4 linked regions of the Homo sapiens genome follow. The protein of the gene in region 2 purifies or fractionates together with the protein of the main gene of each other region. This does not show direct contact. Each region holds a gene or a part of one and is shown on either strand. Other genes may lie near its edges. The genes, in order: RALGAPA2, MTMR7, VPS33B and VIPAS39.

The links.
Region 1: the proteins of MTMR7 (region 2) and RALGAPA2 purify together in Homo sapiens (affinity purification with mass spectrometry; 2 studies listed by BioGRID and IntAct, with this or other methods). This does not show direct contact.
Region 3: the proteins of MTMR7 (region 2) and VPS33B purify together in Homo sapiens (affinity purification with mass spectrometry; 2 studies listed by BioGRID and IntAct, with this or other methods). This does not show direct contact.
Region 4: the proteins of MTMR7 (region 2) and VIPAS39 purify together in Homo sapiens (affinity purification with mass spectrometry; 2 studies listed by BioGRID and IntAct, with this or other methods). This does not show direct contact.

What each region holds. Positions count from the first base shown.
Region 1 is NC_000020.11:20,709,292-20,716,774, reverse strand, and holds the start of RALGAPA2 (ral GTPase-activating protein subunit alpha-2), read left to right. Parts: upstream 1-4,130; 5' UTR 4,131-4,294; coding exon 4,295-4,400; intron 4,401-7,483.
Region 2 is NC_000008.11:17,297,933-17,305,473, forward strand, and holds part of MTMR7 (phosphatidylinositol-3-phosphate phosphatase MTMR7), read right to left. Parts: intron 7,466-7,541; exon of another isoform or gene 6,588-7,465; coding exon 6,447-6,587; exon of another isoform or gene 4,349-6,446; coding exon 4,222-4,348; intron 2,558-4,221; exon of another isoform or gene 2,293-2,557; coding exon 1,930-2,292; 3' UTR 1-1,929. UniProt on the Homo sapiens protein: Lipid phosphatase that specifically dephosphorylates the D-3 position of phosphatidylinositol 3-phosphate (PtdIns(3)P) and inositol 1,3-bisphosphate (Ins(1,3)P2).
Region 3 is NC_000015.10:91,012,257-91,019,797, forward strand, and holds part of VPS33B (vacuolar protein sorting-associated protein 33B), read right to left. Parts: intron 5,630-7,541; coding exon 5,549-5,629; intron 4,809-5,548; exon of another isoform or gene 4,769-4,808; coding exon 4,707-4,768; intron 2,178-4,706; coding exon 2,128-2,177; intron 1,616-2,127; coding exon 1,548-1,615; intron 1,415-1,547; exon of another isoform or gene 178-1,414; intron 1-177. UniProt on the Homo sapiens protein: May play a role in vesicle-mediated protein trafficking to lysosomal compartments and in membrane docking/fusion reactions of late endosomes/lysosomes.
Region 4 is NC_000014.9:77,426,302-77,433,842, forward strand, and holds the end of VIPAS39 (spermatogenesis-defective protein 39 homolog), read right to left. Parts: coding exon 7,541-7,541; intron 3,869-7,540; coding exon of another isoform or gene 3,818-3,868; exon of another isoform or gene 3,789-3,817; intron 3,467-3,788; coding exon 3,380-3,466; intron 2,795-3,379; coding exon 2,705-2,794; intron 2,174-2,704; coding exon 2,069-2,173; intron 1,336-2,068; coding exon 1,315-1,335; 3' UTR 374-1,314; downstream 1-373.

The sequences.
Region 1 (7,483 bases), on a different chromosome or scaffold from region 2:
GGAATTGATGTTAGCTTTTTATTTATCCTTCCAGTGTTTCTTTTTGAAAAAAAAATTTTTAATATTCTGTTCCTTTTATATTTAACAACGTATCTGGAAAATTATGTCAAGTCAGTACACGCGAAATTTTCCCATTATTTTTAAACAGCTGCATAGTACTCCATAGTGCTACACTGTGTGGATGAACTGGATTAAATTAGCCACTTATAGATGTATGTGTATATAAGTACCTTGTTAGACAATCACAGGGTTCTCTCTGGTATCTGGTCATACTCGTTTTCTAGAGTGGCTGCAACAGATTACCACAAATTGCGTGGCTTAAAACAACAGAAATTTATTTTCTCACGGTTCTGGAATCCTGAAGTCTGAAATCAAGGTGTTGGGCTTCCTCTGGAAGACTCCAAGGGAGAATCCTTTCTTGCCTCTTCCAGTTTCTCTTGGCTATAAGGGTCTTTTCGTTTGTGGCTCCATAACCTCAATCTCTACCTTGGTCTTCATGTGCCCTTCTCCTTTGTTTCTATGTTTTCACTTCTTTTGTTTCTTACAAGCACATTTGTCATTGGATTTAGGGTCTACCCAGATAACTGAGGATCTTATTATATTTGCAAAGATCCTTCTGCCAAATAAAGTCTCAGTCACAGTTTTCAGGGATTAGGACATAGACATATCTTTTTGGGGGGAAGGGTGGGCACTGTTCAACCCACTACATTGGCTATTATAAATAGTGGTGAAAGGAATAAACTTCCATGCATGGTTTTATATTTATTTCTCCATAGAGTTATCCTACCAATTACATATATTGTTAGTTTTATTTTTTCCATTTATTTTTTATTTTCAGGCTTGTCTTTTTCTGTTTCAATTTTTGAATATGGAAAACATTTACATGGTTCAAAAATGAAAAAAATATAAAAAGATATACTCAGAGAGGACACTGAGTCCTTTCCACCTCATCCTCTATCCCACTTAGGTAGGCATTAATGTTAAGGTTTTTTTTTAAATCCTTCCAGTGTTATATATTAGAATATCTGCAGGGTAGATTCCTAGAAGTCAAAATTCTGGCTGGGTGTGGTGGTTCACACCTGTAATCCCAGCATTCTGGGAGGCTGAGGCCCGTGGATCACTTGAGGTCAGGCGTTCAAGAGCAGCCTGGCCAACATGGTGAAACTCTGTCTCTACTAAAAATACAAAAATTAGCCAGGCATGGTGGCACATGCCTGTAATTCCAGCTACTCAGGAGGCTGAGGCAGGAGAATCGCTTGAACCTGATAGGCAGAAGTTGCAGTGAGCTGAAATCACACCACTGCACTCCAGCCTGGGGGACAGAGCAAGACTGTCAAAAAAAAAAAAAAACAACAAAACATGGGAGGCCAAAGCCCATGGATCACCTGAGGTCAGATGTTCAAGACCAGCCTGGCCAACATGACAAAACCCCCTCTCCACTAAAAATACAAAAAAATTAGCCAGTCGTGGTTGCGCACGCCTGTAATCCCGGCTAATCGGGAGGCTGAGGCAGGAGAATCGTTTGGACCTGGCGAGATAGCTCCACTGCACTCCAGCCTGGGTGACAGAGCCAGACTTCATCTCAAAAAAAAAAAAAAAAAAAAGAAAAAGAAAAAAGAAAAAAAGAAATTGAAATTCTGGGTCAAAAGGCAAATATTTATTTTTGCCAAATTTCCTTCCATAAGAGTTGTAGCATCTAACATTTCTACCAGCTATGTTTTCTATAGCTCTGCCACCAGACTAGAGTGTGTTATCACACCTTGTCTCTGTAGAGGTTTTTTGTTTGCTTGTTTTTTCTAATTCAAATGATATTTCAGAGTAGTTTTAATTTGCATTGCAAGTTTTAAACTTTTGATCTCATTATTCTTATTTGCTGATTACTGTAGGACATTTATTCAACAACACTTAATGTCTGCATAACACTCGGCACTCTATAACTCCAGGGATAAAGAATTCAGTGCAAAGCAAGTGAAGCCCTCAAAGAGTTCACAGCCCAGCAGGAACGAGTTTAGAAAGAACAACAGAAAATAAGAAGAGCCATATGGAATATGCAAGTGGGTGAAAAAGTACCAACATAATAATACTATATGTTTCTTCCTTTTTAAGAGAAGAATTGGAGTTCTACATTTTCATTACTGGGTAAAGGCTAGATATGATGGGTGCGATGAATTTATATGCACAGATGCCTGTTTCTGGCATTACCAAGCTTGATAGTATCACATGTTCACTGTACACTGTCATTTATTCCCACATGTATCTAATCGCTCAGCCTCCTTAACTGGATTGGAAGCATTGGAGGTCAGGAGGATGCACCTTATACATCTTTTATCTCCAGGGTTTAGAATCATGCCTTACACATTGCAGGTGCTCAATAAATGTTTGATGATGATGGCAGCTTGCTTTGCAATTAAAAAAATGGAGTTTCCTAAGACAAGTATATTCTATTTTTTCAATCAGTGTAAGGAAAAGTATCTTCTCCTAAAGGAATTGGACAGTGAACATTGTGGTTTACTATGTGTAATCAGGTACAAGCTCAATTGCTGTAACGAAGACTCTCAAAATGCCTTGACTTAAGATAAGACATTATTTTGCTCTCTTGTTACACTTTTAGAAGTTTGTGGTCCTGATCTGTTATCATCTGGGGACTCAGGCTGGTAGGGCCGCTCTGCCATCATCTTGAGCATGGGGCTTTCATCTCCGGGTCTGAGAGTGATCCATGTTATTGGGTTTATCAGTAGTCTGTTCTTTTTTATTGCTGAGTAATATTCCTTTGTATGAATGTGTCTATACAAAGGAATATTACACAAATCTAAAAATAGAGAGACGCTCTAAAACTGTGAGTTTATTTATTTATTTTTTCCTTTTCGCCTGCCTGGTTGAAATATGTAGGACTACTTTAGCTTTTTATTGTATTTCATTTAATAAACTTTTATTGAGTGACCCTATGGGCCAAATACTGTGCTGAGGGATGGGGATACAAAGGCGTGTAAATCCTTGTCTCTTCCCTCAAGTTACAGTTCAGCTAGAGGAGAAAAAGACAGTTGTGTTGTCCCAATTTGGATGGAAACCACGTGATTCTACCTTAAGTACTTGCTGAAAAAGCTGAAAGGATGTCAAAACTTGCAGGATTCGGATGCCACTATACAATCCTACAGTGTAAGAAATCTCCTGACCATCTTTCAGCTCAAAGTCTTGCCCCAGGGAATAAGCGCCTGGCTTTAAAAAGTATACAGGCCTGAGTCAGATCCCTCAGGTTCTATTTCTGGTTCTGCTACTGGATCGCCATGTGGCTTGCACAACAGAGAACGCACCCTTCCTACAAAGAGGCAAGATCCCAAGGAGCCCTCTGAGCGAGCGACCTCCATACCCCAAGTGAGGTTGGGTTCCAGGAACCTAGGGGCCGGCTGAACTCCTCACCGGGGCACGCTCTTCCCTAGTGCCAAAGCAACTCATTTTAGTGTGAAATTAGAGCTGCGATTTCGGCACGGTCAGAGGGGCTTCGACTCGCTCCCTTGTGTGAATCCAGAAGCTAAACCTAAAAATAGTTTGCATTTGAAAAGCCTTGACACTTTTCTTACTGAGATTTTTGGGCGTGTGTGGTTCACGTTGCACTAGAGGAAAATGGGGTGGGCGCGCAGGAGGGAGAGTGAAACCACGGGCGATCTAGGCTGCCGGGGCAGGGGACGGACAGAGGCCGCCCTGCGCTTCTGCGACCCTGGAAAAGAGGTCGCAGCGCGTCGCCTGCTGGAGAACTTCATTTCCCAGGAGCACTTGCGGCCCGCGGCAGGGCGGGGCGACGTGCCCAATGCCGGCCCACTGACTCCCATCGTGCCGAAGACCGCCAGCCTGATTGGAGGACTGTCTCGCGGTGCATCTCGGGACTTGTAGTACAACGTGTGCGTGAGAGAAGCTCCTTTGTGATTCGAGGCGCCTTCTCGGCCCTCTGAGCGCGTCCCCGCTAGGTTTTGGCGCGGACGGGCTAGTGTCCCGCCAGGAGAGTTCGGCCTGTGTGCGCGTGCGTAGCGCCCAAGGGGCCGGCCGGCACCTCCCGCGGGGCGGGGCCTTCGGTTCCCCGTCGACACCGCCTTCCTGCCCCGCCCCTCGCCGTGACCGGCCCGCCCCTCCTTCCTGGAGACACAGCTGAGGCGGCGGCGGCGGCGGCGGCGGCGGCAGCAGCGGGGCTGGGGGCGGCGAGTGGCCCGCGCGACACGCGCCGGCCTCGACCCTATGCTTTGATTCGCGTGGCGCAGGCGCCTACTGCCCCGCCGGCGGGGCCCGGGCTTCCTGCCGCGGGATGTTCTCCCGAAGGAGCCACGGGGATGTGAAGAAGTCCACCCAGAAGGTGCTGGACCCGAAGAAGGACGTGCTGACCCGCCTGAAGCACCTGCGGGCGCTGCTGGGTGAGGCGCGCGCCGGGCGCGGGGGTCGGGGCGCCGGGTTAGGGGCACCTGCCGGGAGGGCGCTCCTCTGTGCAGGGGTCGGTGGCTGGGAGGCTGGGGAGGGGGATGGGTGGGCGTCCGACCCCCTTCCCTGGATCTGGGCTTGGACCCCCGGGGCTTTGTTTCCAGAAAGCCGCAGCCTGGCCCTCGGGCACTGCTCCCGTCGCCCTCGAGTTAAACTTAGCCCAGATTCTCGCTGGGCGCCTGCGCTCCCGGAGAACCTGGAGGCCGGGCACAGAGGTACCTGTCCCCTGTCCTCCCAGCAAGTGAACTGGATCCCAAGTGGTCATCACGTGCACACATTGAACTGTCACCTCCCCCTTTCATTTTTAAAATTTTATTTTTGAGTCTGAGACCCTAAGTAGACCGAGACCCCAAGTGAACCCAGCACAGACCTAATTGGGCTCTCATCTCTGTCATCCCCCTTTTAAATTTTATTTTTACTTTTGAGTGTGAGACCCCCATATAGACCGAGATTCCAGGCGATCCCAGCACAGATTTGTCATCTGTCTTCCCATGCTGCTTTTTAAATTTAATTTTTATTTTGGGTCTGGCTGCTTCAGTTTCTTTGTGTCCTTGGTGTGAAGGGGCCTTCTCTTCCTGCTTGGAGAGAGGGGTGGTTTTCTTGGGTTCAGGGAGGCTGCTTCTCCTTTATTACCGGCATGACAGTGATGCTGTCTGCCACCTTCTGGTTTATGGCCTGCCAGGTGGAGGTTCTGAGGAGCTCAGGTGGGCTTGGAGTTGACCTGTGATGAAGCTCGCCCCTGTGGGTGTGAGGTGTCCACAAGGCTTCCTGTCACCTGCTGCATGTGATCTGTAGCTGGTTCGCCTAGGCTATGTTTTGTTTTCTGTATTTTTTTACATCCTAAGTCTTAACTTTTCTTTGGGATGAAAACACCTTTGCTATCTATAGACACACTTACCTGTGTATTTGGTGGCGAAGGAAAGAACACCTTATGTTTCTTCCAGGTGTCTTTTAGTCCCAAAATTCACAAAAATCGCCTAGTGCTAATGTGTCTGTCACTTGAAAGAATATTGCATAAAATGATTTAACGTGTGAAGATTTTAAATAAAGATCTTGTTCATGAGATCAGAAGTTGCTGATTATTTCTATTTATATTCTACCTCTGAGGGGGAGAAGAACCCAAGCCAAACCAAACCACACCTGATTTTGCCAAGTGAAGTTATTCACAATCTCACATACCTTGAGGTTACACTGACTTGTTCAGTTTGAAATGAAATGTAAATTAGTTGCTGTTACAGGGATTCGTTTTCAAGACTTTTGAGAGTGAAGTGTGGAGAGTGAAGTGTGGCGTTCTTGGTAAACTGAATTTTCTACTTCCTGTAGATACCATGCACGCACAGGTTGCACAATACACAGGTTGCATTGTGTGGAGTTCCTGGTAGTGACTGATTAACACCTACTGCAGGGACATTTTTGATAAAGGAGAGTTGAGCTGTGTTTTAAAGCGTTTGATACTTTGAGCCTTTTTCTGTGCTTTAGCGTTTAAATTTTTGTTCTGTCCAGGTCTGCAAGATTAAGTTGGCTACATTTTATAAAGGCAGAATCAAGTAAACCTAGATCAGGTTATTTCTTAGCACACAGTACATTGTTCCCATTCTGAGAAAGTTGATTCTTTTCAAGTTTGTAAAATTGTAGTTTCACTCTAAGGTGTAGGTCTTATTTTAGGGAACTTTCTTTTATCATTTCACTGAACTCATCATGACCTCAGTTTTGTAACATGGAGAGGTTCTTTTATATTTCCTTAGGTGTATGTTTTTTGTTGATATACTTACTAGTGGAGTGGCCCAGTTTGCTTTGTTTATTACTGTGATCTTTGTAGGGACTAGATTTTTGTAAAATGTGTCTGAGGAATTCTAGTCATAATATTTAATGTAAACTTTCACTTGCTCCTGTGATTTATTAAAGACTTAAAAAGTAGTACGTAATGCACTAGTTCCTACCTAATCACATATTCTATTTCATTGCTACTCGAAAAAAAGTCTACTTAGAAAACAAAGGCCTCTTGAACTGAAAGTTAGGAATTAAGCCAAGATTAAGGAAACTATTTGAAGGAAATGAATAGTAATTACTATTGTATTTTTATGTGTGTATTTATATAACACTTTTGCTTTTCATATATTTTATCTTCAAGTGATAATAAAGTTTTTTTTTAAGTATGCAAAGATTATGCCACTTACTTGGGTATTTGCAGCCTGTCCCTGCCGCCTGCAGCTTCATGACTTGAGCTAGTTACGTAGCCTGTCTCTGAACCTCGGTTTCTTTGCTCTGTAAAATGGGTATGGTAATGTTTGCTTTTTAAAGGATTATTGTGAGTATGATGAATAAATGACTTCAGCTTGAAGTAGGCCTTTAACAGTTTCTTTCCCATTACATATCTCCCACCATTAATAGGATAGGACCAGTATTTTGATAGGTAATTTTTCTCCGTCTTTCTTATTTTTGATAATAGTGATGAATTTGTTCTCTTTTCCTAAAAAGTAGTCTGTATTTAAAACAACTGGGTGAGAAACATAAAATTAGCTGTGGAAGTAGAGTATTTCTTAGTATCATGGTAATAACTCCAATTTGGATGTAGATACTTTCACCTGGCTATAGACTGGTCTGGTATGATTAACTTTATTTTACAGAGGGGTAAGCTGAGGCACAGGCAGGCTTGACACGTATCAAGCCATGTAGCAGACGGTTTACTTATGTTAGAGGAAGAACGAAGAGCTGTTAGGTCCTGTGACTTCCAGTTCTTCCTACACTGTTGACAAAACAAAAACCAAAAAACCCTGTGTATTACCATATTGCTCCAGCAAAGATTCCATGTCTTTTTTTTAACAGGATCTTTGCTCTGTTGTCCACGTTGGAGTACAGTAGTTTGACCTTGCCTCAACTGCTGCAGCCTTGGCCTCCCTGGCTCGAGTAATCTCCCACCTCAGCCCCTGGAGTAGCTGGGGCTACAGGCATGTACCACCACACTAGGCTCATTTTTGTATTTTTTTTTTTTGAGATGGAGTCTCACTCTGTTACCCAC
Region 2 (7,541 bases):
ATGGAAGTTGTCATATTAAAAAACTACATTTTAAAACATCAAATATTTATACTATTTGCTTTTCAAATAAAAGCATAGTGCTGTTTGGCATAGATACTTTGTCATTTTTTAAAAAATGTTTATTGTTTTTATAGACATACACTGTCAAACGGAAGAAATTAAAGCCACATCCTCAATATTAGGCAACAGAGTTTCTAAGAGTGGACAGCTCCAAGAAGGTTGTGAAGTGAGTTATGTTATGTTATAAAAATGTGAAAGCCATTACCACTATATCCTAAGTTTTATTTTAGCAAGGTATTCCCTATTACATATAGTATATTGCAGAAAATGAATAAACATTCCTTGTACTTAATTTGGGAACTGCTCAGCAGAGAATGCCCAAATTTTATATTCTGAAAGAATTAATTACACTTGCTTTATTTTTTACATTAACAGTACTTTTAAATCACAGTTCTCTAATATATTCTATATTTTTAAATATGATGAACACAATTAAATGTTTTCATTTATATATATTGCAACACTCCCTCCAAATCTTTCATACTAGAGAGATCAGCAATGTTGCTTTCTTGCCCTCGTCCTCATTTCAGCGAAATGTAATAATTCTCCCATTAAAAAAAATCAGATATTCAAAATATTGATGTAAATTGTAAAGTTTAAATTAATCCTTTCACATATTCAAAATATTGATCTAAATTGTAAAGTTTAATCCTTTTACATTCTAGAATGTACTAATATATTAAAACCATACAGTGTGAATACCATTTATTTATGTCCAAACATGGCCACTTTTCCCCACTAAGTTTAATTTAGGTCACCTAGTGAAGTCTTTTTTAACTCATAAGATAGGGGAGGGACTCTCCCTTAAATGTGCAGTGTAACAAAACAAAAATTCTTTTCAGAACTTTCAGCAGTCAGTGGTCATGAGATGTTACTAAGGTTAATTAAACCATATTAGCCAGTTACATAATTTCTAAAATGATAGATTACAAAACCTATTCCCTTCATTAAACAGACATGACAACCCAATTCTCTGGTTCTTGAAACTGGATTTTCACTCACAGATGTTTTATCTACTAACTTTATAATGTGATACTTTGAGATCAGGCTGGTGGCTGGCCCACACTGTCGGTAGTGTAGTCTCTAGAACAGTAATAAAAGGTTATTACAAGAAAGCTGATACTTAAATTCATATGTAAGACCAGGAGAATGAATGTTGCTTCTACCTCGTTAGCTATTAAATCAGTGTTAGAGAAAAAGTGAGATACAAGGTTTAGCATTTTTAAATAATGAGGAGAAACAGACTATAGATCTCAGAGAAAAGCAACAAAATTATTCTCACAATTCAAAATATATGCTCCAAGGAAAAGTTAAAGTGATGATTATGCCTGAAAGATAAGCAATTAAAAGCTCCTTAGGAATGCATCTATTAACTAAAAAGGGTGCATCTCACCAATGTGCCTGTTTTTAGAAATATGTATAAGAGGGTCGGAAAGGAGGATAATGTCAGATGCTTTAGAAAACACAAAATATGCATCTAGAAGTGAACTAAAAGAATCATGATGATCACAGATGTGAGGGAAAGGAGTGGAGGCTTTTTGAGAGATGCATGCTATGACAAGGAAGATAGATACTGATCACTTCAGGTAATGACAGAAGTAATTGCTCTGCAGTGAATATAATTTTCATAGTCTAGGGTGAGCTTCAAAATGGTGAATAATTTTCCTTATATTTGATAAATGAAATGACTACGTCCTCTTCAGTATCTAAGAAATCAAGAACTGGGCACTTTTTTCCCTTTTCATAGCTGCATTAAAGTAGTTCTCAATGACATGCACCATTTCCTGTTTTTACAATAAACCACCTTGTTCCCTTGTTTTTGGAAGTGTTGCTTATGTGTCCTTTACTTTGGAACTCCAAAGGGAAACTTCAGGCAGTGAGAAACACGGCTTCATCAGAATCCCGGTCCTTGCCACTATCTTCACTCGGTGCATGCTCACCACCACTTGGAGACCGACAGCTCAAATCCTCCACCCCGGACTCTTGGTCACTGTTGGCTGACAGATCTGGATCTGAACTTTTCAGATTGTCTTGGGTTAGAATCAGAGCAGAATCTTCATCGCCTTGTGAAGGGCTCCGGGATGGAAATGATTTCATATTCCCACTGTAATCCTGGGGAGTGTTGGCTATGCTGTTGTCTGAGGTAGAAAACCCTGAGTGCTTGCTGGGCTCACTTTGCTTACTCTTCACCTTAGTGCAATTTAACTGGACCTTTTGAATTTTTTCCAGCCTCTAAGAAAGAAATAACAATTTCAGGGGAAAAATCATAAATAACTTATCTTTTTCTATATATGCATGTCTTTAGCATTTGTTACCTCCCACGTGGGTATAATGTTAAGAACATGTGACTCAGAGGGATGTGAGTTCAAACCTGGACTTCACGACCTTGGACAAAATCTGTGAGGCCTGCTTTATCTCTAATGTAAGGATAATACCTGCCTTGACATAGGTTTTCTATAATAATAAACAATATAGCACAGTTGAAGCACCCAGTGAACCCTAGTCTCCCTCTTTTCTATACCTACATGGTTTCAAATGATGAGTCTCATCCCATGAACTCAAAAAACATTTTTTAGAAATCATGAATGAAGTGTTTATCATCTAACTTTTATACTGAGATACAATTCACTTACCGTGAAACTCACCCTTTTAAAGTATACAATTCAGTGGTTTTTAGTTATATTCACAAGGTTGTGCAACGATCACTACTAATTATAAAACACTGTCATCACCTCCCCTGCCGAAAGAAAACCCCATACTCATTAGCAGTCATTTCCCATTCCTATCTCCCCACAGCCCCTGGCTACTACTGATCAACTTCTATCTCTATGGATTTGCCTAGTCTAGATGTTTTATATAAATTGAATGGAATCATACAACATGTGGATTTTTGTATCTGGCTTCCTTCACTTAGCTTATGTTCTCAGAATTCATTCATGGTACAGCATGTATCAAGTACTTCATTCCTTTTTCTGGCTGAACAGTATTCCATTACATGGATATACCAGATTTTGTTTCCCCATTCATCATGTTATGGACACCTGGGTTGTTCAGAATACATTTCGCCAGATTTCATGTTTTGATGTTAACACAGGAGGTGTTATAAGATCAAGTATTATGTATTCATTCAAAACCATTCACTTAGGTTATGTGCAAAAGCACTGTGCTGGGCAGTGTGAGGAAAAGAGATAGATAAATACAGACCCAGCCTTAAGGAACATGGAGTAGTGGAGCAGAGAGAGGCAGAGTTCATGCAATGTAAGAATTTCAAAAAGGCAAAAGTTCTTGAAGAGGGATGAAGTGGTAAGGTTAGAAGGAAAAGAACAGAGTAAGTTTCAGGGAGGAAGGAACATTTTAACAGGACTGTGAAAGATTTAAACTTGGACATTCTGGTGATAGCTAGTAAGCATTCCTGACAGGAGTAGGGACAGTGAGAGGACAAACACAAAGGTAGGAAGGTCTAAATTGTATACAAGCAGCAAAAACCATTAAATATTAGCATGGAAAATAAAGCTGAAAAGAGAAAATCTCAAATGCCAGCCTAAGGAATTTTGACTTTGTAATAAGGAAGAGCCAGTTTTAAAGAGCCAGACTGCTAGAATAGACTAATAGAATCCTAAGATGTTCATAAACTACATTAGTACCATTGGAAACAAAGTTATCCAATTAGGAAAAGCATTTTATTATAACCTCCCTGTCCAAGTACAGGGAAGTTCATAGAAGCCAAAAGATAAGACTTTACAGTCAGTCTCCCCTTTACCAATTATAGATTAATATCATAGTTAACATAATTTCTAAAAGTGGGGAAAGAGTTTTACAAGTACATATATTTGATTTTATTCTGTTACTTTTTCACACTTTCCAGAAAAAAATTAATTTTACTACTCTCAAATAACAGTAACCAAACAAGTTGACCTAAAATAAGGAACAACCAAAAATTTGTGGAACTGAGCCACAAACCAGATGTGTGAAATGCATTAAATGCCTAGGTTTGGGCTTCGGTTATCTGAGTCCTGACCTGGATGGGGTTGTGTTTCAGGTGTTCTACTGACTAAAAATGTGAAATATTTGTATTGCACTGAATCTTAAGAGGCTTTCATGAAGCCTTGCTCTTCAAGAAATAAGCACAGAAAATAGATTAACAAAGCAAGTATGTCTTACTTCTTCCAGGGCCTCTAGTTCTTCCTCTAGCTGCTGAGTTTCTTCCTTCACTGCCATTAGGTAATCTGTAACTGACTGTCGGGGCTGCATCCCCTTTTCAAAGCGGTTATACATTCCACTCCAAAACCTGGAAAGGATGGCAAAGCGTCGTGATACCACCTTATCACAGTCTGAAAATTCACATCCTCAAGTCTTCTAAGGTATCTATGATACCACAGTCTTAATAATAACCAAATGCAAATTTCAGCCTCAAAAAAGCCACTACTTAAGGTAATAATTTCATGTTGATGTTTTTTTTCTTGGGTCAGTAAATGCCTTTTGGGGAGAATAAGTTTATGAAAAGTCTGCCTGTATATATGAATTAGCACAGAATACATTTTTCTAAAATTAAAATAGTACATGTAACCATTACCTTTTAAGAAAATGGCTCTTAGTTTTGAACTTTGAAATTGTATATTTAGAATCTTTCAGCTACAAAGGGAATCTTAAACTTGCAGCTTTTATCTTTTGTATCACGACCACTAAAAGTTGACATTTGCATTGGCAATAACCCCCCCCCCCCCGCTTTTTTTTTTAATGGCAGAGTTTCGCTCTTGTCACCCAAACCGAAGTGCAGTGGTGTGATATCGGCTCCTTGCAACCTCCACCTCCCGGGTTCAAGCGATTCTCCTGCCTCAGCCTCCCAAGTACCTGGGATTACAGGCATGCACCACCATGCCTAATTTTATATTTTTTTTAGTAGAGACAGGGTTTCACCATGTTGGTCAGGTTGGTCATGAACTCCTGACCTCAGGTGATCCACCCACCTCAGCCTCCCAAAGTGCTGGGATTATAGGCGGGAGCCACCACGCCTGACCAATAAATCCCTTTTTATCCTACACAAAAAAGCAACTGGAGTGCAAATGAGAAAAATGGTGTTATCACAGAGTTACCCTTAGAACCACTATTTTATTTATGTAGATAAGTAAGTACTTTGAGGGCAAGGACTTGGTGTCATTGTTTTATCTGCAGTGCCCAGAACAGTGTTTGATCCTCAATAAAATATGTGTTGACTAGCTGTTAATAATAAATTAGTTGCAATCCAACTGGTCATATCTCAACAGCTCTTAAAACTTGTCTTACATGCACTATGGAGGCTTTTGTTTAGTATGATAGAATATTCTGCTATAAATTCTGAGAAGATAATTAGATTGAAATAATTAAGAAAAAAAACCTTGAGAAACGAAATCTATACAGGGAGAAAAGCCATCAAGTCTGTGTCGGGAGTGAGTAGGAAGAAAGAGATGGGGTTTCTGTTTATTCTGCATGAGTCTTTTGATGTTGCTGACCTTTGAGTTTTTTCATATTATACAAGCCTAACAAGGAAGCCAAAGGAAAAAACATACGTATCTAGCACATACCTAGTAGAACTTGTAGGATGCCACCCTGCTCTCCCCATTCTCCCCATACATACAATCTTTTTTTTTTTTTTTTGAGATGGAGTTTTGCTCTTGTTGCCCAGGCTGGAGTGCAATGGCACGATCTCGGCTCACCGCAACCTCCTCCTCCCTGGTTCAAGTGATTCTCCTGTCTCAGCCTCCCGAGTAGCTAGGATTACAGGCGCTCACCACCATGCCCAGCTAATTTTTGTATTTTCAGTAGAGACTGGGTCTCCCCATGTTGGCCAGGCTTGTCTTGAACTCCTGACCTAGGGTGATCCACCCGCCTCGGCTAATACATACAATCTTAATGTAATTTCCACAAGGGAAGTACTTCCAGTAGGACTTAATTCAGTGGAGACAAAAAGGCAACCTATTACGTTGGTGCAAAAGTAATTGCGGTTTTTGCCTTTTTGTTGTATAACGGCAAAAACCACAATTATTTTTGCTCCAACCTTAACACGTCATGATCACTGTTGAAACTTGTGATTCCACATTTGACTTAAGGCATTTGCATTATTCTCTTTCATTTGCTTTTAAAAAAATAAATTGGAACTTAACCTTTTTATGATATCATTATTATAAAACATCACCTCCTGAAGAAAATTCCACATTTAGGAGGAATAAAGAGGCAGAGGAGTCACTGGCAAAAATACCAGATCAGATATTCAAGCATCTCCCTCTGGTGTCTTTTGTGTCCAATAAAAGCCTCAAAGATCAGTGTCATACACTTTGACCTCTGAATGTTAAACGGTACCAGAATCCAAGTTCATACCATGGCTACAAAGTTACCAAGGATTTACATACTTGTACATGAAGTTACATGGTGTTGTAGGGAGATGAAGGGTTCCCTGAGTCTGGCTGTGATCAGCTCTAAACAGAGGATTCAGGTAGTCGGCCCGATTCTTCCACAGGTGAGCCCATAATGAGTATGTTCTTTCTTGAATCCTGTTATAAAGAAAATAAGTCTATAAATGACCTATTTTGGTGCTTACACACAGTAGATATGTTATATTAATGCTGGAAAGGAACTAATAATTGTTACCTGAAAACCACGTGTCTGTTCGATAGCAGGTAAATGTATCATCTTGGTGACTTCATGGTATAGAGGGAGAACACTGTAATAATCTCAACTTCACCACCATCTGTACTGGCCTTGACAAGGTGTTCGATTCGTGTGTGTGTGTGTGTGTGTGTTAAGCTGTTCTTTTGGGGGGAGTTTTTTCCCCCAAATAGTCATTGGACATTTATAATTTGTCACACACTATTCTAAATGTTCCACGTTTTCTCTCATTTAATCCTCACTGAGTTGCTGTGAGCTCTGTCTAATTTACAGATGAAGAAACTGAGGAATAGAGAGAATAAGTGGTTTCCCAAAGTCCTATAGCTAGTAAGTGGAAAAGCCATATTCAGACCCAAGCAGATACTGTTAGAATTGGCTAGTCAGGTACAAGAAAACAGGTGACCCTAAAGGATACACTCTGCTCCTTCTAAATCATCTCCATCTCCATGGAATCACACTTGAGCTTCCTTAGAGAAAACAAACTAGTATCCACTACAAAAATTAATTTTCTTTATGAGTCCATTTCATTTGAACTGATCATTCCCCAAATTAAATCTGATAATGTTGTATACACCATAGTTAAAACCATTTCATTTTATGAAAATTTAAAAAATGTTCTCTCATGTATACTGCCTAAATCACTTTGTTGTAAGTTTTTTACTGTCACTTATTTTAAAGTCCACAATTTATCTACTTTTACCCTTGGATAAATCAATACAGTTTTAATCTGAATAAATTCTGGCTTTTATATTTGCTTTCCCAATTAAATTTGCAATTTTTATTATGGTAGCATAGCCACCAAATATATCTAACCTTTTCCTTTTAAATGCAAAAACCAC
Region 3 (7,541 bases), on a different chromosome or scaffold from region 2:
CTATCAATGTTCAGGTGACATTCAAAGGAAGGTCACTGGCTCTTTCCTCTTATTCCTTTTACAGAAGGAGAAAACAATATAAGCCTAGGGTCCCACTTGATTTCTTATTTCAACAGAGACTCAAAGTCATCTCACTTAAATTAAAAGATAAGTACTATTATCAACTCTATCTTCCAGATGAGAAAACCGAGACACGGAGCAGCTCAGTACCTAACCCAAGACCACACAGGTAATAAGGCCTCAAGGGTGGATTTTATCCAGACAGCCTGGTTTCAGAGGCTTCAGTCCTTAGTTACTGCCTCTATTTTCTCTAGAATTTTCTTAGAAAGATTGAAAAGGAATAAATCCCTGTTCTTCCTAGTCTAGCTTCTACCTTCTGTAAGTATGCATGCACTACTTGCTGTAGCTTTAGAGGCCTATGGTTGGCAAGGTAAAGGCCTGGAACGTCATTCCTCCCAATCACTGGGATTGAGGATGCACGTAGCTGATGTGGAGGTGAGAGGGGAGCTCAATGGAATCAAGAAATGGACAGACTATGATGGACCTCCAAATATGTACTGCAATTATTGAGTTAAAGATGGAAGAGCTCTACTCTGGCTGTGCTAACTCACTGTGTGAGCATGGGCTTCAGTTCCCTCAGCTGCTCAAAGTTGGGGTGGAGTAAAACAGTCTCTAAGGTTCCTTTCCTGTGCAAGAAAAGGCTTTTCCAATATATGGTGGCATGGTTCTAGTAACCCAGGGGCAGCCCAGCCACATCCTTATAAGCATAGCGGATGGGAAGAGGGAGGGTGATGATTTATCGTATTTATTCTTAAAGGGATACAGGGAGAAAGTCACTGGAAAGCCGTAACATTGTGCACCATTACTATACTAGAGTTTGTGTTAGGGATACAGAGCAGGTTCTACCTCGCAAGCGTGAAGCTTTTCATTTAAAAAAATCTACGTAGAGGCCTCTTCGCACAATTCCACAATACTTTATTTGGGACAGTATGATGACAGACCCTCTGCTAAACAAATGAGGATATGTTAATGAATTGAGGATGCGTTAGTGACAGGTATTAGGTTCAATCACACATAATTTGCTTTGAGGGAGTGCTATGGTTTGAATGTGTCTCCCAAAAGTTCATCTGTTGGAAACTGAATCTGCAGTGCAACAGTGTTGGGAGGTGCAGCCTAATAACAGGTGATTGGGTTATGAGGGAGGAGTCCTCATGAATGGATTAATGTCCTTATGGCAGGAGTGGGTTGCTATAAGGCGAGTCCAGCCCCTGGGTGTCTCTTGGTCTCATGTGCTGGCTTCCACCTTCCACCCTTCTGCCATGGGATGACCCTCGCCAGATGCCAGCCCCACAGTCTTGGATTTCACAACCTCCCCAGACCATGAGCTAAATAAATTTCTGTTCATTATAAATTACCTAGTCTCAGGTATTCTGTTACAGCAACAGAAAACGAACGGAGACAGGGAGGTAGTGCTGTTGGCCCCTTACCCCTGCCCGGTCCTCAGTCCTGTTCTACCTTATCCCACTTCCTCCAGGATCCAAACTCACCTTTTGAGGGCTGAAGATCACTTTGTATTTGCGAGTTCGGCCAGCCAATTTGTCAGCATTGACAAGACCTACAGAGAGAAGGAATGCAGCCCAGCAAGTCATGGGCCATCTGTTATGCTAGAAACAGGGAAGCTGCCGGGCACAGTGGTTCACGCCTGTAATCCCAGCACTTGGGAGGCTGAGGCGGGTGGATCACCTGAGGTCAGGAGTTTGCGACCAGCCTGGCCAACATGGTGAAACTCTGTCTCTACTAAAAACACAAAAAATTAGCCCGATCTGGTGGTGGGCACCTGTAATCCCAGCTACTTGGGAGGCTAAGGCAAGAGAATCGCTTGAACCCAGGAGGCGGAGGTTGCAGTGAGCCGAGATCGTGCCATTGCACTCCAGACTGGGCAACAAGAGTGAAACTCCGTCTCAAAAAAAAAAAAAAAAAAAAAAAGAAGCGGGGAAGCAGACATCCTCCACAAGTGCTACGGCCAACTCAAACAATTATTTTCTTATTAGAGGGTCCTTATGGCCAAGGCCCTTAGATTTTGCCCGCCCTTTCCCACAGTTACACATAGTACCATGGCACACTCACTGGCAATGTATCGCATATTCTTGATGCGGGGTCTGACCAAGAAGCACAATCTATGAGAGAGAAAGAAAAAAAAACAGTGAAGAAGAATTATCAAGTTGGATAGCAACTTAGAAGAAACTGAAACAATACCAACTCTTTTGCCATTTGCCCTACAGGTCTCATCCTAGCCAAAGCTATGCTATTCTCTTGGTCCACCATATACCAACCACAGAAGATACCTCTCAACACAATGGGTATAATGTGATGAGCTGGGTACATTACTGGCCCTATGGTGGACCCAAAAGTTCCTGTTCTCAAATAATTTACAATCCAGTGGGCAAAAAAAGATGCAGATATGGAGTATATTAACAATCAGTGCTGAAAAACAATATAAGAATACCCCATAAAAATATACAATTATTATCTGTCAGTTAAAAATAAAGGCTGGGCATGGTGGCTCACACCTGTAATCTTAACACTCCGGGAAGCCAAGGTGAGAAGATTGCTTGAGCTCAGGAGTTCGAAACTAGCCTCAGCAACACAGTGAGACCTCATCTCTATTAAAAATAATAATAGTGCTGTAATCCCAGCACTTTGGGAGGCAGAGGCGCGTGGATCACCTGAGGTCAGGAGTTTGAGACCAGCCCAGCCAACATGGTGAAACCCCGTCTCTACTAAAAATACAAACATTGGCTGGGCATGGTGGCTCACACCTGTAATCCCAGCACTTTGGGAGGCAGAGGCGGGTGGATCACCTGAGGTCAGGAGTTTGAGACCAGCCCAGCCAACATGGTGAAACCCCGTCTCTACTAAAAATACAAAAATTGGCTGGGCATGGTGGCGCATGTCTGTAATCCCAGCTACGCAGGAGGCTGAGGCAGGAGAATCGCTTGAACCCAGGAGGTGGAGGTTACAGTGAGCCCAGATCGCGCCATTGCTCTCCAGCCTGGATGACAAGAGCTAAACTCCGTCTCAAAAAAAATAAAATAAAATAAAATAATAATAAATAATAATAGTAAAATAAAAGAACTATAAGGCCTGGCGAGGTGGTGCATGCCTATAATCCCAGCATTTTGGGAGGCCAAGGAGTGCGGATCACCTGAGGTCAAGAGTTCAAGACCAGCCTGGCCAACATAGAGAAACTCCATCTCTACTAAAAATACAAAAATTAGCTGGGCAAGGTGGCAGGCGCCTGTAATCACAGCTACTTGGGAGGCTAAGAAGAATTGCTTGAACCTGGGAGGCAGATCCCGCCACTGCACTCCAACCTGGGTGACAGAGTTAGACTCCTACTCAAAAAAATAAAATAAAATAAAACTATAGGCGGATGCAGTGCTGCACACTTGTAATCCCAGTTACTCAGGAGACTGAGGTAGGAGGATCCCTTGAGCCAGGAGCTCAAGGCTGCAGTGAGCTATGATTGCACCACTGCACTCCAGCCTGTGCAACAGAGTGAGACCCTGTCTCTGAAAATAAATAAATTTAATTAAAAAAATTTAAATATAAGAAAGTAATAGAAAATATTTTTTTTCAAACTGGGGTACATGGATATATTCTCCATGTATCCAGGAGAATTTTTTCTTCTAAGAAAGCATGTACATTAATTAAGTTTCAGAAATACTTTAAAATCAAGACAACAGCTGTACATGACTACATGCCGAGCGAACAGGACAAATACAAAATGCCATGGAAATCCAGAGGAGAAAATCACTCTAGACTGGAAGGGCAACAGAGAGCTTCATGGAGGAGGTGGCCGGGCTCTGAAGGATGGACATTCTTTATAGGAGCAGTGAGGACAGGAGAGAATTTCAGGCAGAGCGAATGGAGTGATGAAAAGGGTGAAGGCACAGGCTGAGAGGCAGGTGGAAGCACATGTCAACAGAGGCTTGAAGGGGACACACGAGACAAGGCTGGAAAGGTAACGTGGGAGGCCACGCTGCAGACAGCCTTGAAGTCTATGACAAATAATGTGGACAATCTTCAGCAAGTAATAAGAGGCCTTGCAGATTCTTCTTTTTTTTTTTTTTTTTTTTTTTTTGAGATGGAGTCTTGCTCTGTCACCCAGGCTGGACTGCAGTGGCGCGATCTTGGCTCACTGCAACTCATCGCCTCCCGGGTTCAAGCGATTCGCCTGGCTCAGCCTCCTGAGTAGCTGGGATTACAGGCACACGCCACCACACCTGGCTAATTTTCGTATTTTTAGTAGAGATGGGGTTTCACCATGATAGCTAGGCTGGTCTCTATCTCCTGACCTCAGAAGATCCGCCCGCCTCGGCCTCCCAAAGTGCTGGGATTACAGGCATGAGCCGCCGCACCCAGCTGCCTTGCAGGTTCTTGAGAAAAGCACGATGAAAATAATTTTGAAAGATTAGTCAATCTGGTTATAGACTGTATTATAAATTAGAGAGGGAAGAGGACAAGAAACCACAGAAAGGAAACTACAGAAAACAAAACAAAACAACAGAAGATTAACCTAGCCATGAAATTGTAAAGTTCAGGGAGGTGAACCATATATCTCAGCCAAGGACAGATGAAAGGCAGACGTGCCCCTAGGGACCTCTTCCAGCTTGGAGTAGGGACAGACTCTCCCAGACACTCACTGTTCATTGGAGCTGAGGGCTGGCTTGTTCTCCACCTTGTATAGCTTGTCTACTTCGTGTTGCTACAGAGAGAATCCAATAAGACAATGGACATAAGAGTGCCTGAAAAGCACAAAGTGTGACACGAAGATAGGGGACTTCTTGAGGGCTTCCTAATTATGCTAATTATTGAGGGCTTCCTAATTATGCTAATTATGCTCCCCTGACGACCATCCCACTGAATTTTCCTCAAACTGTCAATAGAAAAACCTAAAATAAAACAATATAAAAACAGTATGGGCCAGGTGTGGTGGCTCATGCCTGTAATCCCAGCACGTTGGGAGGCCAAGGTAGGAGGATCACTTGAACCCAGGAGTTTGAGATCAGCCTGGGTAACATAACAAGACTCCATCTCTACAAAATTAAATATATATATATATATATATATATATATATATATATATATATATATATATATATATTCTGTAGTAAACAGACTCAGAAAAATAAATAATAAATTTAAATTTAAAAATTAACCAGGTGTGGTGGCACATGCCTGTGGTCCCAGCTACTTGGGAAGCTGAGGCAGGAGGATCACCTGAGTCCAGGAGGTCAAGGCTGCAGTGAGCTGTGATTGTGTCACTACACTGTATTCCAGCCTGGGCAACAGAGAGAGACTCCGTCTCCCGCCGCAAAAAAACACAAAACAAAAAAATACGAACAGCATCAATCTCCCTTTTCTACCCAATTAAGCTACCCTATATTTGCCCTACAAGAGTAGTCACTCTTCAGTAGTTTGTATTGTTCATCAAAAGAAAAACTGCTTAAAGAGGGGCATGGCCCCCAGGGGAAAGGGACAGTACCTTCAGGATGGAGACATTGGCAATTCGATCCAAAGGGCTCATGAGATCTGCCTCAATGAATAAATCCTTTTTTCCAGGAAGCTGAAGGAGACACAATATGTTGGGTCACTCACAGGTCACATGAGCTTCCGCAGCTGAGAAGTGGCCCAGCCACCCATCTAACAGAAACAGTCTCTGAGGTGGGAGGGCACTAAGTATCGTCTAGCCCGTCACCTTATTTATTATCTGTATCCACAGTTGACACTTCTCTGTATATTTACCTATTTTGCCTTCTCGTTTTCTGTACCAGTGGGAAGAAGACATCCCACCTTCTTTCTCAGGTTAACTCCTTGTCACTCAACCCTTCTGCTCACCTGTGACCTTGGTCTGCACCTCACTCCCCTTCTCTGCTGCCTCCTCCACTCTGGCTCCTAACCACCCCTGGTCTCCTGCTGAACAAAGCCAAACACAACAGAACCCCACCTTGCATTTTTCTCCTAAGTACAAAATAAAATAGCACACGTTCACTGCAGAAAACTTAGCAAACCCAGGACAGTCCTCACCCCATCACCCTTCCACTCCCCCACCCCACAATCCCTGTCATACGATTCCTGCACCACCACTCCTGACACCGATCTCAATGTCTGTTCAGAGGAAGGAGAGGTCACAGTTAGTGACAGGGAGGGGAAAGTCACTGGGAGTTTCCTCTCACCCAGGCCTTCACAAATGAGTAGGGTGTTGACATGGATGGATGAAGAGGACAGTCCAGCAAAGATCAGAAAGAGAGCATAGGCTGTGTAGTAAGGGGACGATTTTGCCCTCCGAGGGACATTTGGCAATGTCCAGACACATTTTTGGTTATCTGACTCAGGGTAGGGGTTTTACTGGCATCTTGTGGGTAGAGGCCAGGGGTGCTGCTAGACATCCAACAATGCACAGGCCAGCCCCCACCACAAAGAATGATCCAGCCCAAAAAGTCAACAGTATAGAGAGCAGGAAATCTTTTTTTTTAAATCTTATTTGTTGTTTTGTTTTGTTTGTTTGTTTTTTGAGATGAAGTCTCCCTCTGACACCCAGGCTGGAGTGCAGTGGCGTGATCTCGGCTCACTGCAACCTCCGCCTCCCGGATTCAAGCAATTCTCTGCCTCAGCCTCCCGAGTAGCTGAGATTACAGGTGCCTGCCACCACACCTGGCTAATTTTTGTATTTTTAGTAGAGACGGTGTTTCACCATCTTGGCCAGGCTGGTCTTGAACTCCTGACCTCATGATCCACCTGCCTCGGCCTCCCAAAGTGCTGGGATTACAGGTGTGAGCCACTGCTCCTGGCCTGTTTTTTTTTTTTTTTTTTTTTTTTTAAAGATAGAGTCTTACTCTGTCGCCCAGGCTGGAGTGGCACGACCTCAGCTCACTGCAACCTCTGCCTCCCAGGGTCAAGCAATTCTCCTGTCTCAGCCTCCCGAGTAGCTGGGATTATAGGCGCATGCCACCACACCTGGCTAATTTTTGTATTTTTAGTAGACATGGAATTTCGCCATGTTGGCCAGGGTGTTCTCGAACCCCTGACCTCCTCAGGTGATCCACCTGCCTCAGCCTCCCAAACTGTTGGGATTATAGGTGTGAGCCACCACGTTTGGCCTTTTTAAATGTTTATTTATTTTTTAGTTTCCCAAACTCAAAATGGTCAACAGAGGGTAGGAAATCTTGAGGTAGGTGAATGGTGAAAAATAGACCAAAATAGTTGGTTAGAATTGAGCAGGAAGGGCTCCAAATGCCAGCTTAGGGGAGTGTGGCCTTGATCCTCTAATTAACAGGGAAAAATAAAGCTTTTGTGTATTGAAGCATTCCAATCAGCTGGAAATGTTAGAGGAATCTGAAGACCAGAGAAACAGGAGGCAGGGAGTCCACTTAGGGAGTTAATAAAACCATCCACAGAGCGCAAGCATGTGGCAATGAAAGAGGCCTGATTTAGGCTGGTGGTGGTGTGAGCAAACATAGATTAAGAGATACATGGAA
Region 4 (7,541 bases), on a different chromosome or scaffold from region 2:
CTGGGAGGTGGAGGTTGCAGTGAGCTGAGAGCGCCACTGCACTCCAGCCTGGGCGACAGAGCGAGACACCATCTCACAAACAAACAAACTCTACAAAATTTTAGATTATCTAATGAATCCAGAGAAAGAAAGGGACTCACCCAGCATCACATAACTATTTAGTGGTAGAGCTGGAAAAAGTCAGGTCTTGTGTCTCCCAGCACCGTGCTGTTTCTGTTAACCACACAGCCCTGCTTTGCCATAGCACTGTTACTCTATAACCTGACATGTGCCGACAGGCTGCTAAATGCAGTCACTGAGGAAGACTTGTAATGATCCTAAGATCCTGAGCAATTATTTCATCATTCTACACAAAACCACCAGGAGCGGGAGAGAAGGCACCAAGGAAGAAATACCTTTATTAGGAGTCTAGGCATGTCAGAAAAACCCAGTTCAGTCACAGAAAAGGAGGCAAATATTGGTACAGAGCAAGAATCCAAGTGTGAAAATAAAACCTCCATCTAAATATCCTAACAGAAATGCTGCTGAATTTAGCCCAGGTGAAACTTCTGAAAGCTCCTGGTGAAATGAGATTTTTGCATAAAGAGAGAGCTCTCCAGCACTGCTGCATCTGAGCTTCTTATAAAGTGACGGGTCTTGGCCAGCAGTAGAGGAAGAGATAAAGGGGATGTCTCATCACCCAAGCAAGGTCGTCTGTGTTCAAGTGAGAGAAGAACCTTAGGGTTTTGGACAGAGTAAACTGGGGCAGCAGAGGGAAAATGGCTGAGGAAACACAACGTCTAGGCCATGTGTGGCATAATGTGGAGGGGTCTGTGCAGTCTGGTGTGAGTGCATCTCCAGGAGGTCTTGGGAAACACTGGCATTCCTTCCTGAGGCCATTTTGGTTCTGTTCTGACTTCATTCAGAGCAGAACTGCCAATGTCCAGCGCCAAGTCCTGGATCATAATTAGCTGAGTGGAATGCAGTAGCCACCCTATGACTCCCATACCTCTTCCTTTCTGGAGCAGTCACTTTTCTCAGACCAAGTGAGATCTTACCCAGTAGGGGCCCAATCTAGAAATCACTCCCACCTTCATATGAGCACCAGGTGGAGAGAATCATTCTCATGACTCAAAGCTTTAGATCTCGATCCTCAGATGATGTTCCTTGGACAGAAGATCAGTCTGAAGTTATCTGTGTCAAGAGTAGCTGGCACTGCCCATGGGTAATGGGCCCAAGCGATGTGATGCCGCAGCTCTCCCAAAGAAGAGCTCTCTCTGCTTTCACAGGCAGGAGAGGAGGAAATGAGGCAGGCTTCAAGGTAGTCAATGCCACTTAATTCTTCCATCGAATTTGCTGTGGAAAGAGGAAACAATGAAAGTGTGTGATCAGTTTTCACTTATCCCTACAGCAAGGCAGAGAAAATGCAACAAAACAAGGCTCAGCTAGATAATGTAAGGAAAAGAAAAAGTAGAATCAGATCAGGAGGTGGGGGATGTTGAGAAATTTTTTAAAATATATGGGGGAGTTCATTTATTCAAAGATGCATTAAACACCTATTTTGTATTTTACAAGCCTAATTTTGGTCATTTGACCCTAAGGTAGGTTCCAAAATACCTAACAGGGAACTAACTTTCATATTAACAAAGAGCTCAGTAATTTCCTGCTGTGAGAGACGAACCAGCTGTGCTCCCCAGGTAGCTAACATCTATTTCACCCACTTCTTATTTTCAACTGGTAGGTCCCATCCATCCCCACGAGACCATACAGTTTGGATATTCTGAATCTGTAACATGTTTTCATACTTTCAATATTTAGTTTCTCCTACATGCTAGGTTTAACTATTATCACAGCATTACAGTTAAGTCTTAGCTTGAGGTCCCCAGATTACCCCCCTATCATACCGCATCTCAGGAGTAATTTCTGCTATTCAAAGCAGTGCTTTTGACATTGTGGCCAGAGGAGAGCCTTACATCCATGTGGCTTAGCCAACTGCAATCCTTCCAGACCTTGGGAACATACATTTGGTACTATTTTGTGAACTGTCTGTCTCCTGAGCCTGCTGGAGGGGTGAACTGTAGCTGCTCACCGAGCTGCTGAGAAGAGCATCAATCTTCTCCTCCTCTGCTGATCCTTTATCTACCTTACTCCTGTATGCTAGCAACTGTTGACGATCCTTCAGGTCCCGGTAGGTCTGTGCATCAAAACAAACAATACAAACCTCCAATCAGCCTCTGTACAGGGTTCTTTTTGCCCAGGATGGTCTCAAACTCCTGGGCTCAAGCAATCCTCTCTCCTTAGGCTCCTGAGTAGCTGGAACTACTGGTGTGTGCTACTGTGTACACATGAGGGCTTATTTCTTTTTGTCATTATCACTTTGACCCAACGCTCAAGGAGAGGCTAAGAGGCTATAGTGGGATAACAGTGGGGTCCAGTGCCCACAGAACTCCATGTTGGAGAGAAGACTACACAGCTTGTATAGCTTGATTTAGTTCTATGAATTCTCCAAGTACGACAAGTTTATAAAAACACAGAGAAAGCAGTCAGAGGGCTGGGAAAATAATACAGGAGTGCTGGTCTCCAAACAAACTCTTGCCAGATTATTCTGTCCATTCAGTCAAACCTGGTGGGAGCACCTCAGGATCTTGGACAGAGAATATTATAATCCCCACCCTGCTTCGCCACTGAGGATCTAACGGAGGACTCCCATTTCTTGGGGACTCACATCAATGACGACATCATGGCACTTGAACTTAGTGGCTAAGTTCAACTTCGTGTCCACATCTTCCACCAGATTGACATACTCCTGTAATATCTGTGGGAAGAGGTACTTCCGATTAATGATTCAAACACCCATAAGGCACAGAGCTCTACAAGGTAGAAAAGAAAGTCCTGAAGAAGGCAAAAGAGTTCAATAGCTAATGTTTCCAGTTTCCATCATCAACCACAGGACTAGTTCTGCAATGGGAATGAGGTAACGCTACACAGTACTTCCATGCTGCCTCAGTAAGCAGGAAAGAGCACACTTCTCCTGATCCTCGAGCCAGATACACATGCCAGCAATGAGTGCTCTAGCTGTGATCCAGTGCTCTGCTCATTTCTCCCTGATGTCTTTTCTCCACGAGTTCTCCTTTTCTATCATTTGAACAGTACATCAGTATTCCACTTGGGCTAACACAGTAGATGCTACTCAGAGAGGACAGTTTGGAATTGTTTCTAAAGGGGAGAAAGGGAGAGAATTTCACTCCCTGGCCTTTTCTGTCTTGAGGCCTATTGCAGCCATTGTGCTGCCTTTAAGGGAAAACAAGAGCAGATCGGGTCTCCCATCACTGACCAGTAAGAGGCTTAAAGTTAGGTCTCCAAGAATATCCTGTACCCAACTCTCTTCAGGACCCATTACCTGCACAGGGGCATTGTTCTTGTGCAAAATTTCGACAACCCGATGGAAGCCAATGGGTGCTCTCTTCTTGGTATAGCCCAGCCAGTTCTGAAAGAGGAAGATGGGGTAGCGGCAGGTAGGCCAGGCACACTCAACACATTCTAGGTTAGTCTATGTTTTACGATCAGACCAGAATAATGTGGTGGGTGAGTGGGGGTGCTGAGGGATACAGAAATAATGAGAAATGAATTTTTCAGAAAAATCAAGGGATTTGAGAGAGTGGAAATGAATCAGGTTTGAAATAACTTCTTAGATCTATAGAAACGAATGCAGGGAAAAGTCTTGAAATACTACTAAATGGGATAAGTAACTTACTTAATATTTGTAGTATGAACTTATCAATGTAGAAAATAATTCCATCTTCCATATCTTTGTAAGTACAGATGTTTATTTGCAAATTCATGAGGGAAGGTCTGGAAAGCTACCCATTAAACTTTTAACAGTGTTTGCCTTGAGAAAGGGGGTGAGATAGGAGTAGGTAGAAAATGAAAAAGGAACTTCACTCTTTCTATACTTTAATACAGTGTTTGATTTTGACAACAGACACATATTGCTTTGTTAATATAACTAATTAAATAATTAACAAATAGGAAAAACAGAAAATTTTTAAACCCATAATGGAAAAACAGATATTTAAAACGTAAACTAATTCATATTGAACCGCCAAAGATCCCACATAGCCAAAGCAATCAATGTTAAAGAAAAACAAAATGGAGGCCAGGTGCGGTGGCTCATGTCTGTAATCCCAGCACTTTTGGAGGCCGAGGTGGGCGGATCACTTGAGGCCAGGAGTTCGAGACCAGCCTGGCCAACATGGTGAAACCCCATCTTTACTAAAAATACAAAAATTAGCCGGGCAGGGTGGCGCATGCCTTTAATCCCAGCTACTCGGGAGGTTGAGGCAGGAGATTCAGTGGAACCCTGGAGGCAGAGGTTGCAGTGAGCTGAGATTGCACCACTGCACTCCAGCCTGGGTGACAGAGCAAGACTCTGTCTCAAAAAAGAAAAAAAAAAAAAAAGGGGGGGTAGGGGTAGGAGGCAACATGCTTCATGATTTCAAATTATATTACAAAGTTACATATATTAATCAAAACAGTACGGGGCTGGCATAAAAACAAACACATAGACCAGTGGAATAGAATAGAGAGCCTAGAAATAAACCCAAGCATATATGGTCAGCTAATTTTCAACAAAAGCACCAAGAGGACCCAATGGGGAAAGGATAGTCTCTTCAATGAGTGGTGCTGGGAAAACTGGATTTCCACATGCAAAAGAATGAAATTAGACCTTTATCTTACACCATACACAAAAATCAACTCAAAATGGATAATATACCTAAGCATAAGACCTGAAGCCATAAAACTCATAGAAGAAAACATGGGAAAAAGCTCCTTGACATTGGCCTTGGCAATGATTTTTTTGGATATCACACCAAAGGCTCAGGCTACAAAAGCAAAAATAAATGGGATTACATCAAACTAAAAAGCTGCGCATGGCAAAGGAAACAATCAAAATGAAAGGCAGCCTATGGATTAGAATATTTGTAAACCACATATCTGATAAGGGATTAGTATCTAAAACATATAAAGAACTCACACAATGCAATAGCAGAAACAAAAATTGCCAGATTTAAAAATGGGCAAAAGACTTGAATGGACATTTCTCCAAAGAAGACATGGAAATGGCCAAGAAGTACATGAAAAGGTGATCAGTATCACTAAACATCAGGGAAATGCAAATCAAAACTATAATAAGATATCACCTCACACCTGTTAAGATGACTGTTATCAAAAAGACAAATGATGTGTTAGCAAGGGTGTGGGGAAAGGGAACTCTTGTACCCTGTCGGTGGGAATGTAGATTGGTGTAGCCAATGTGGAAAACAGGCTGCAGTGAGCTACGGTCATGCCACTGCACTTCAGCCTGGGTGACAGAGTGAGACCCTCTCTCAAAAAAGTAAAAATAAAAATAAAAATAGAACTATCATATGACCCAGTAATCAATCTTTCTTTTGGGTATATGCCCAAAATAAATGAAATCATCACCTCATAAAGATACTTGCATTTCCACATTCATTGTAACACTATTCATGAGATGTTAACTATTCATGAAATGTAACTATTATAAATTATTGCTGAGAATTTAAATATCTGTAACTTACAAAAATAATAAACAAATAAATAATTCCCTCTCCCTAAAAAATAGCCAAGATAAGGAAACAACTTAAGTGTCCATTGACAAACAAATGGATACAGAAACTATGGAACTATGGTATATATATACATACATGCTGGAATATTAGCTTTAGAGATCTAATTACAAGATGAGGACTGTAGTTAATAGTACTGTACTGTAATCAGGAGTTTTGCTAAATGAGTAGATTTTAGCTGTTTTTGCCACAAAAAAATAATTTGAGATGATAGATATGTTAATTTGCTTCACTGTAGTAACCATTTTACTCTCTACATGTATCTCATAACATCTTATCGTATAACTTAAGTATATACAATATATAATAACATTTATCTTAAAAAAAGAAGAAAGATAACAAGTGTTGGCAAGGGTATAGAGAAAAGGGACCCTGGTACACTGTTGTCGGTGGGAATGTAAATTAGTGCAGCCATCATGAAAAACAGTATAGGCGTTCCTCAAAAATGTTTAAACAGAACTACTATATGATCCAGCAATCCCACTATTGCATATAAATCCAAAGGAAATGCAATCAGCATCTCACAGAGACATCTACACTCCCATGTTTATTGTGGCATTATTCACAAGAGCCAAGATATGGAAACAACCTAAGTGTCCATTGATGGATGAGTGGATAAAGAAATTGTGGTACATATATACAATGGAATATATTCAGAACTTAAAAAATAAGGAGATCCTGACATGTGACAGCATGGATGAACCTGGAGGACATTATGCTAAGTGAAATAAGCCAGACAGAAAGGAAAATAACCTCATGATCTCACTCATGTAGGATCTAAAAAAGTCAAACACATAGAAAGTAGTTTCCAGAGGGGGAAAAAAGTAGGTCAAAGGATACAAAGTTGTAGTTATGCAGGATGAATAAATCTAGAAATCTAATGTACAGCATGAGGAATACAGTTAATAATAGTGTAGTGTATACTGGAAATTTGCTAAGAGAGTGAATTTTAGGGGTTCTTACCACACTCACAAAAAATGGCTAACTGTGAGATGATGGGTTAATTGGCATGACTGTATAATCATTTCACTATGTATATGTAGATCAAAACATTATGTTGTACCTTAAATATATACAATAAAAATTAATTTAAAAAAAGGTAAATCAGTAAAGACATGACAACCAAACTCAATCCAAGGTCTTTGATTGGATCCTGATAGAAAAAAATACAGAAGCAAACCAAAAGTAGCTATAAATAACTAATTTAAATATGGACCATGATTAAATATGTATTATTATATTAATGTTAAATTTTTTTAGTGATAATTATATTGTGCTTCTTTTTTTTTGAGACAGGGTTTTGCTCTTGTTGCCCAGGCTGGAGTGCAATGGTGCAATCTTGGCTCACTGCAACCTCCGCCTCCTGGATTCAAGCAATTCTCTCGCCTCAGCCTCCTGAGTAGCTGGGATTACAGGTGCACACCACCACACCCAGCTAATTTTTGTATTTTCAGTAGAGACGGGGTTTCACCATGTTGGCCAGGATGGTCTCAAACTCCTGACCTCAGGTGATCCACCCGCCTCGGCCTCCCAAAGTGCTGGGATTATAGGCGTGAGCCACCGCGCCCAGCCCAATATTGTGCTTACGTAGTATTAAAGGAGAGGTGTTAAGATGTCTACAACTTACTTTCAAATGATTCAGAAAAGAAAAACACATAGGTATAGAAAAAGAGAAAGCATACATGGCAAAATTGTTAATAAATTAGTGATGTGGATAAAGACTATTATACTATTATAGTATATATTTGATTATTATATGAACTATAAAATTCATTCTTTCAACTTTTCTTTAGGTTTGAAATTTTGGAAAATAAAAAGTTGGAGGAAAAATGTAAACCGGTAACTAGAACTTATAACATGATAGAACCCTTCTGTCTCCCAAGGCCTCAGCAGCACAGGGGCAGGGCACACACC